Linked DNA regions of Homo sapiens: regions 1 and 3 are each linked to region 2. The links come from fine-mapping of genetic effects on gene expression. A gene starts in region 2. Each other region holds a variant in brackets. All regions are shown on one strand. Distances are between the middles of the regions.

Region 1 (2,764 bases), 30 kb after region 2:
TCTTAAATAAACCTCTCCCCATCCTGAGTATTTCAAAACAAAAGACCCCTGAAGAACACAACCCTTCCCTCACCAGAAAAATCTAGCATATAAGCAAAAGGATGGTCTATAAAAGTGGAAAATGGAAATAAATCGTAAAGTGATTTCTAAGTAAGGAGGTGGAGTAAAGCTTAAACACTGTCAGTACCCCTAGTGAAGACCTGGACCTGGGTAGTTAGTCCTTAGAGATCAAGGTTAGCTCACTACAAAAAGCACTCTACATGTCCTCAGCATCTTCAAAAATAAGTGGCTCAAAATTCCTTAAGCACATGTAGCCATAGTTAAAGCACTAAACTTGTTATTTCAGGAAATACTATGCTCTGGCTCCAAGTCTTACATCCTTTTTGACCCTTTAGCCACATGTCCTTCACGAGAAATTTTAAGCTATTTTAATACTCCCATATATCACACTTACTCTACCTTTATTTGGGTTTTACATACAAGCAATCTGCACTTTGATTTTAAAAAAGTTCTAAAATTTTTTAAAGGATGGGGTCTTGCTATATTGCCCAGGCTGGAGTGCAGTGGCTATTCGCAGGTGCAATCATCATGGCACATTACAGCCTCGAGCTCCTGGTCTCAAGCCTCTTGCCTCAGCCTCCCTAGTAGCTGAGACTATAAATAGTATATACAGTGCCACTGTACCCTCTATCCTACATTTTTAAAAGCTCACCATTAAATAGTACTAATTATTATAGAAAATAGTCACAGACAATTATAAACACACTACTGTTTCATCTTACCTCTTTGTCTGGTCCACTCCCCCATCAATACTCAGTCTTCCAACACATATATCAATTAGAATATTTTGCATCTGCATAATTTACTGCAAGAAAATCTGCTGTTGTGGACTTTAAGAAGAATGTACACTATCCATTAGAGTGGAAAGGGGCCAAGAGGATTAATAAGTGCCACCAAGTTTCTAAAACTGCAGAATCAGAGGCATTGTGCATGCTGACAATGGTTTAAAGGGTCTCTCAATTTTACTTTAATCCCCCATTTAACCTTTGTTTCTTTCAAAAAATCAACTGAAAGCGGTTAACTGAATATAAATCTATTTTACAGCATTTACTACGTTAATTTAAAAATCAACATGCTGTAAAATACTTACATTATTCACACATATATAGACGGAATCATCCAGAACATAATCAACTGCCAACCCCCCTTAAAAAAAAAATCAACAAATCAGTTTTTATTTGCATGGCCAATTATCATTTGTACTCTTTGCAACTTTATTTAAAAATCCCTTTAACATGTTCTAATCTTTTGTTGCA[C/G]AGGGAATAAAAGCTGCAAGACTGCAAACTTCCTTCAACAGCCACACCCACAACACCTAGACATGAAACAGATGTAACAAATAACAACACCACAAACAGAAATACTGATTTCCACCATTCAACACAGTTCATGACAGTGTCTTTAGGGTTCAGTTGAAGAGGGGGTAAACTTTTAAAAAGAGGGTCAGTCTGCTTTCCCCCTGTTTTATAATGTTGGTGGTTTTAATCCGTATTTCTTTGCAACTTCTGTCTGGGCATGGGCGGCATCGCAAAGTGAATACAGATGGGCCATCTCCATTTCCGATTTGGCCAGGTTAATAGCTTTGTTGAACATGTCAATGGCTTTCTCCATGTTTCCTCTAAAAGAACAAAATTTTTAAGTCTCAGATTCAACAAGCACTTCACAATATTCAATGAAGGTTGTAAGTGATGGTACATGAAGTCTGACCACTAAGTTTCTTCACAATATTCAATGAAGGTTGTAAGTGATGCTACATGAAGTCTGACCACTAAGTTTCTACTATGATTCTAGTAAAATGCTTCTTTTAAAATAAACAAGAGTACCTACCACATTGAAAGCACTCAATGAATGTCAACTACTATTACAAATACTATGTGCTTACATTATATCCCTTGTATTCTGTGTTTACTGATAAGAACAGTCAGACTAGGGAAATTGATTGGCTTATTTAAAATCACAATTCCGTCTGGTTCCTAAATTTTACATGTTTCTACTGTTAACATGAGACTCCTTTAGAAAGCAGTGACATAATACCGGGACACTAATGACATGCAAGGGCCTTACCTTCACAGACTGATGTGGGCCCACCTCTTTCTGTTTCATCTCTTACCAGCACATCCCCAACCCCATGCATCTCTACTCTTCAGGCAGTCTATGTGAGTTCCTCACACCTACTCAATAAATACTCAGATTTATTGCCTCTGCCTGATTCTGGTCAAATCCACAGCTATCTAAGAACCAACTGTTTTAAGTAACTAGTATTAGCTACATATATATGCAATCCTACAAAGAATATTAAGTCCCTACTATATATATATATACCTGCATATACAGAGTCTAACTGGCATACATGTTAGTAAGGTACATTTTATTGGCATATGTGCCAGTTAGACTTTATATGCCAGTAAGAGGTACCACTAGGGTGACTATATTTAATCCCCCATTATAATATATGGCAACGTGATAGGCTTATTTTTAAAAAAAACTTTTTTCAAGAGTTCATGTTCTGGCATTAGGCCAACAGCTAGCAGATCTGCAAAATCCTAGGATAATCTGCAATTTCATTTATTCAAATTCACTTATTTAATTGTAAGGTTCAGAATGGATTTTTTCAAAGTTCAATTAACGTGAACAAAATTCCATCAAACCCTATCAGAGGTCTTTAGTTAACCCAGGATCTATGAAAGCCTTGAATTAAAAGCAAAGT
Region 2 (2,764 bases):
GTTTCAGTATAAACTATTCTGGGGCATTCCAAAAGGTGGTTAAGTTTTGGATTTTTGTTCCACAAGTCTGACAAGGCACAAAAACACAAAACACGAAAATTAAAAAGCAATCTAATAAATAAAAATGCAAAAATCATAGTCTATAGGCTGGGCGCAGCAGCTCACGCCTATAATTCCAGCACTTTGGGAGGCTAAGGCAGTAGGGTCTTGAGCTCAGGAGTTTGAGACCAGCCTGGGCAAAATAGCAAGGCCCCACCTCTATTAAAAGTAAAAAACTTAAAAAAAAAAAAAAAAGAAAGAAAGAAAGAAAAAGAAAAAAGGAAAAGAAATAGCTAGGTGTGGTGGTGTGTGCCTGTAGTCCCAGCTACTTGGGAGGCTGAGGACGGAGGATCGCTTGAGCCGGGAGGTTGAGGCTGCAATGGGCTGAGACTGCTGCACTGCACTCCTGACTGGATGACAGAGTGAGACCCTGTCTAAAACAAACAAACAAAAAAGGATATTAGCAAAGAGATGACAATGTATTCGAGGACTGACTTGTTGAGGGCATGGCGTTGAACCCTCAGCATCTTTCCCGTTGGCCTAGCAGCCTTGTAGTCAGATTTTACAGACGTCTCGCGTGCCTAAACCAACCAGGGTCATTCCGTCCCCGTCACAGAGACTTGTTCAAATAGCTCAAGCCCATCAGCATACGGTGTTAACCTGGCCACAGAGGTGATTCAACCAGCTAGAAGTTCAGTCCTTTTGCGGAGAATCAGCAAACGCTACAAATCAGGGCTTTCCTCCCTGAAAAGTCTGGTTGTTAAGACATTCACCAGCACACCACCTCGACTTAGGCCGTTCCCTTTTGCCCTTTGCCTTTCGAGGCATGCTTTTTCCGGACTGTGTTGCAATTAACCATTTCTCGTTGGTCCGTCCTGGTGTTACAGGCGCACTGGAATGAACGCAGACCCTTCTCTCCTCCCGGCCGGGGCCAGGAGGAGGGGTGGGGCGGGGCCTCTGACGCGGTCCCCGCCCCACCGTAGCGACGCCGCGGTCCGCCGGATCTCCAGCGCTCAGTCCGCGCCGCAGGTGGTGCTTGTCTGCAGAGTCATGACCTGTAAGTGGCGCGGCCGCGCGCTGCAGCTCGAGTTCGGGCCGCGGGGGAGGCTTTGGAGCGGCGCCGGCGGTGGCTCGGCCGGCTCAGCCCCTCCGCCCCGCGTCCCCGCCGTGCGCGGCCTTCCCTGAGGCGGGCGTCCGCGTGGGTCCGGGATCGCGTGGCCGGGCGGCCGGGCGCACTCCCGGGATTCCAGGCTTCCGGGGTGGCGGGCGAGGCCCAGAAAGCACCAGGCCACCCGGCCGCGCCGGCACCCGCCGCGTCCTGCTTGACAGAGGCTGATGGACGTGTATTTCTCCACGGTGTGGGCCGCGGTGGTAGGATCCAACTCCCTTGGGTGTTTTCAAGTTGCGTGACCTCCTCCAGCCCCGCCCTGCACAAAGGTGCCCAGGCGGTTCTTCGTCTCCCCACTCACTTTCCAGCTCCAGATTTTGACTTGGATTCTTGCTGTGTCACTTACTTTGTTCAGTGACTTTGTGCAGCTTTCCCCCTGCAAGTCCCCTGTTTCTTTATTTGTAAAATGATGTTAATGATACCTCACACAATGATGTTAATGTGTGAAGGACCTGGCACATTGCTTTAAATGTTATTCCTTTGTTGTTTCCTTCGCTCACAGTATTTTATTCTTTTTTTCCGCCCCTTGGTAAGGTCTTCGTTGTTAGATTATGATGAATATTAGGGCAGCCTTAAAAGTCTTCACTTTACAGATGAGATGGAGTGACGGGCGTCTCCTCCTCAGCATGAGGAACTGCCCAGTGGCGGGGTTTCCCTGCTGCAGCATGTCTGTAGAGTGGGTCATTTGCAGAATGATAGGCAGTCCTAAGCTTAGTTGAGGACCCCGCCCTTGTGGGTGAGATGTGTAGGAGAGGAAGCCATCAGCGTAGCCATGGTGAGCTTTATCTTTCCCACCCTCGGAAGCACAGACATGGCCCGGCACGTGGCTCACGCCTGTAATCCCAACAGTTTGGGAAGCTGAGGCACGAGGATCGCTTGAGTTCACGAGTCAAGAGTTGGAGACCAGCCTGGGCAACATGGCGACACCTTGTCTGTACTAAAAAATACAAAATTAGCCCGGTGTGGTGGCACGCCCCTTTAGTCCCAAACTACTTGGGAAGCTGAGGAGGGAGAATGGCTTAACGCTGGGAAATGGAGGGGAGACGTTTAGTGGATTTATCTGCTGTTCTGATAACAGCTCAAAATATCTGTTTGCCCCAGAATAATCCCAGCTTTTATTTCCTGTTTTAGTTTCCCTTCAGATTCTATAACTATTTAGCAGGCTGCCTTCAGGGTTAAATTTAGTGCTTCTCACTATATTTAGGATAGATCAAGGAATGGGACATCTGAGTTTTCCTTTTAGTTAACCCTGAGCCAAACAGGCCTTCATCAGAGGCCAGGGTTTGTCATTGTTGCCTTTTCTGGAGACATTTGCGTTGTTACAGGAAACACCCAAAAGAGATAGCTCTCTAATGGTAGGATTTTCAGACTCTGGAGCAGAGGTGGGATGGGAAGTTCGGGCAGGCCATTACTAATTGAAGGGGTGGGTTGCCCCTCCACACCTGTGGGTGTTTCTCGTTAGGTGGAACGAGAGACTTGGAAAAGAAAAAGACACAAACAAAGTATAGAGAAAGAAGTAGGGGGGCCCAGGGGACCAGCGTTCGGCATACGGAGGAT
Region 3 (2,764 bases), 88 kb after region 2:
GCATAGAATTCTGTTATATAAATATATCGTAATGTATTAGCCTGATCTCCAGTTGTTGTACTTTTAAGATGTTTCCACATCTTACAAGTTTTTGCTATTTTAAATAATGTTATGTGAACAAACATCCTTGTATGTACCTCTTACTACCCACTTGTAAAAAAGAGAGAAATTTCTGGGTCAAAGGATGCAAATTTTTTTTAAAGCTTTTAAATGCATCTTGCCATATACCTTTCCATAAAGACCTTATTCCTGCTAATAACATGTGATATTTGATCCTCAGAAAAGAATGTTATGGAGGTTCAAGTTTTTTTGTTTTAATAGTCTGAAAACTTCACATTATTTTTTAACTCAAACTTTAGTTTTTGCAATTTATTTTCCTAAATGTTGTATTTTGTCAGTTTTCTTTATGTGTATGATGATCCTCTCCTTTATTGTAAATTGCAGCATTTTGTCCCTCTCAAATATGAGGCACTCAGGACTCTCAATTCCCCCAGTTCTTGTTTGGATCACTTCTTATGGAGAGGCTTGTAGATTCAACAGAAGTGCTGAGGCATTACCTTTAGATTCTGTGACATTGCAGTTAATAACTGAAAGGAAGCCTTTCTGAAGTATAGCACACTGATGAACTGGATTGATAAAGTCTTTTTTTTTTTTTTTTTTTGCTATGGAGTCTTGCTTAGTCGCCCAGGCTGGAGTGAAGTGGCATGATCTGGGCTCACTGCAAGCTTCGCCTCCCGGGTTCAGGCCATTCTCCTGCCTCAGCCTCCTGAGTAGCTGGGACTATAGGCACCTGCCACCAAGCCCAGCTAATTTTTTGCATTTTTAGTGGAGACAGGGTTTCACTGTGTTAGCCAGGATGGTCTTGATCTCCTGACCTTGTGATCCGCCTGCCTCAGCCTCCCAAAAAGTTTTTTACATAGTAGTAAATTTTAACAGTAGTAGCTCGTCTGTTTTAGAATAATTGGTGCCTAGGGATTGAAGAGACCTTGAGAGGTCAACCAACTAATAACACTTTTGGAGACAAAGCTACAGAGATTTCATCTTTGGCAGATGAGAATCAGGGCTGTGTTTGAAGGTCTCTTGTGTAAGAGATGATTTATTGGCTCTTCAAAATCTCTTCCAATGTCTAACAACTATTATGAAGCCCACCTTTAGCCAAAATCCTGAAGAATTTAATGATGCTTAATGCCAAGGTAACTGGATATTTATATAACCAATATTTTATAGGCAAATCTCTGAAAACATACCTTGCTTTGTCTCCTCTTTTTTTTTTTTTTTTTTTTTTTTTTTGCACCACTAGTGGCATAGTTTAAAAACAGTTCTCATAAT[A/C]CATGCTTCACGGCTTTTTAGAATAAAAAATAATGGTGATATACCCTTAGAGACATGCTTTAGGACACTTGGTTAAAAAAGGTGTGTCTTTGATGACCACCTCAAAAGAGTGGCAGACTTCACAGTATAACTTGATAATATACAAGGAAATGGATGATTATACTATGACACGTTGCCACTAAACAAGAGTCTGACAATCAGGTCATTGAATAGAACATAGCACACAGTTTCAAGTATTTAAGCACTGCTTTCTGGGAAGTAAAAACTGACTCAAAACCACTGATGTATTTTGACCGTTAAAAAGAAAAAAAGATGTAGCAGTTTAGCTCTTCTGGACATAGCATTTCCTTTCTAGAATGAGACCGGTTCAGTCAAGCTTGAAATCAGTAAGAGGAATGATGCTTTCCCTTAACTGTTAAGAAAAAGAAAAACGAAATAAAAAAAAATAAGTTACTACTGCAACAACGGCATGGCACTGGGACAGTGAAATAAATAAAGGGAAAATCGGATGGGCGTGGTGGCTCACTCCTGTAATCCTAACACTTTGGGAGGCTGAGGTTGGAGGATTGCTTGAGTCCAGGAGTTCGAGACCAGCCTGGGCAACGTAGTGAGACCTCATCTCTATAAAAATAAATAAAGGGAAAATCATTTTCTCATAATTGCATAGTCTCCTAAGAGAGAGGGCACTGAGAAACCACTTGACAGCCCAAGGATCATTTTCACTGATTACCTGGGCACCCATGATATCCGTTCACTTTATGAGAATACACACACTGCAAGCTTCCTATTCTGTAAGAGAAGGTATTTTTTTTTTCACATTCAGCATGATAAGAAAATTCTCATTTTCTTGAGTGTCAGCATGATACTCAAATTCTCAGCTCAGAAGCTGCAGCTGTCGCAGTCACTTGGCAGCTTTTGCATCATCCTGCAGGCTCAAAAAGGTGCAGGGTAAAAAGCGCAGCTCCCTTTGGTACGCATCCCCAGCAGCATCTCCTCAAGGCAGGTGCCCAGGGCCGTTACTAGGGAAAGCAGGTATCTGGGCTTCAGGAGTGGGCTGGAGCCTCCCCTCAGGCCAGGGCTCCCAAGAAAGCCCAGAAGAGCATCTCTCCCAGTGCTGAAAGACTTGACACTTTCTGCTAGTGCTTTTTTGCTGCCCCATGTTTGTTTTAAGAACCTTAGCGTAGTAGAGTAGGGAGCTATCTTTTCCTCATGTTTTTAAAGAAGAAATAGGCTTAACTAGGAGAAAAAATGGAGTTGGAAGTCTCATTTTCTTTAATGTAGTCCAAATCCCTTTTTCTTTCTGGGGTATATTTACATCTTGTTGTTTTGGGAGAATTTTTGATCAAAGATTTGAAGAGTTCCCTTTCCTTCCAGTATTAGGAGATTCCCCAGGACCAACCTGAGGTTCACGACTTGCTAAAAAGGACTTATAAGG

Alleles and levels. Alleles are on the strand shown, and positions count from the first base shown. SD is a standard deviation of normalised expression in the study named. Not every link is listed here.
As copies of C replace A in region 3, the expression in whole blood of the gene that starts at base 1,055 in region 2 goes down (small effect, 0.32 SD a copy in Lepik 2017).

The links. PIP is the estimated chance that this variant, and not a neighbour inherited with it, causes the effect.
Region 1: its variant is the best candidate, but not a certain one, in a credible set for the expression of NIT2 in sun-exposed skin (GTEx, PIP 0.76).
Region 3: its variant is the best candidate, but not a certain one, in a credible set for the expression of NIT2 in whole blood (Lepik 2017, PIP 0.63).

Annotation. Positions count from the first base shown.
Region 1 is chr3:100,364,043-100,366,806 of GRCh38, forward strand. It overlaps TOMM70 (translocase of outer mitochondrial membrane 70), which reads right to left. Exons shown (of 12, transcript NM_014820.5): 12 at 1-1,675. The coding sequence ends at 1,522. Among named protein-coding and RNA genes, the nearest start is that of NIT2, 31 kb to the left of the region's middle. The variant C/G (reference allele first, on the strand shown) is at 1,317.
Region 2 is chr3:100,333,703-100,336,466 of GRCh38, forward strand. It overlaps NIT2 (nitrilase family member 2), which reads left to right and starts at 1,055. Exons shown (of 10, transcript NM_020202.5): 1 at 1,055-1,096. The coding sequence starts at 1,090. RefSeq lists enhancers at 823-1,391, 1,485-1,534, 1,555-1,614, 1,735-1,814 and silencers at 1,055-1,384, 1,783-2,077.
Region 3 is chr3:100,421,541-100,424,304 of GRCh38, forward strand. All of the region lies in intron 1 of LNP1 (leukemia NUP98 fusion partner 1), which reads left to right. Among named protein-coding and RNA genes, the nearest start is that of LNP1, 21 kb to the left of the region's middle. The variant A/C (reference allele first, on the strand shown) is at 1,330.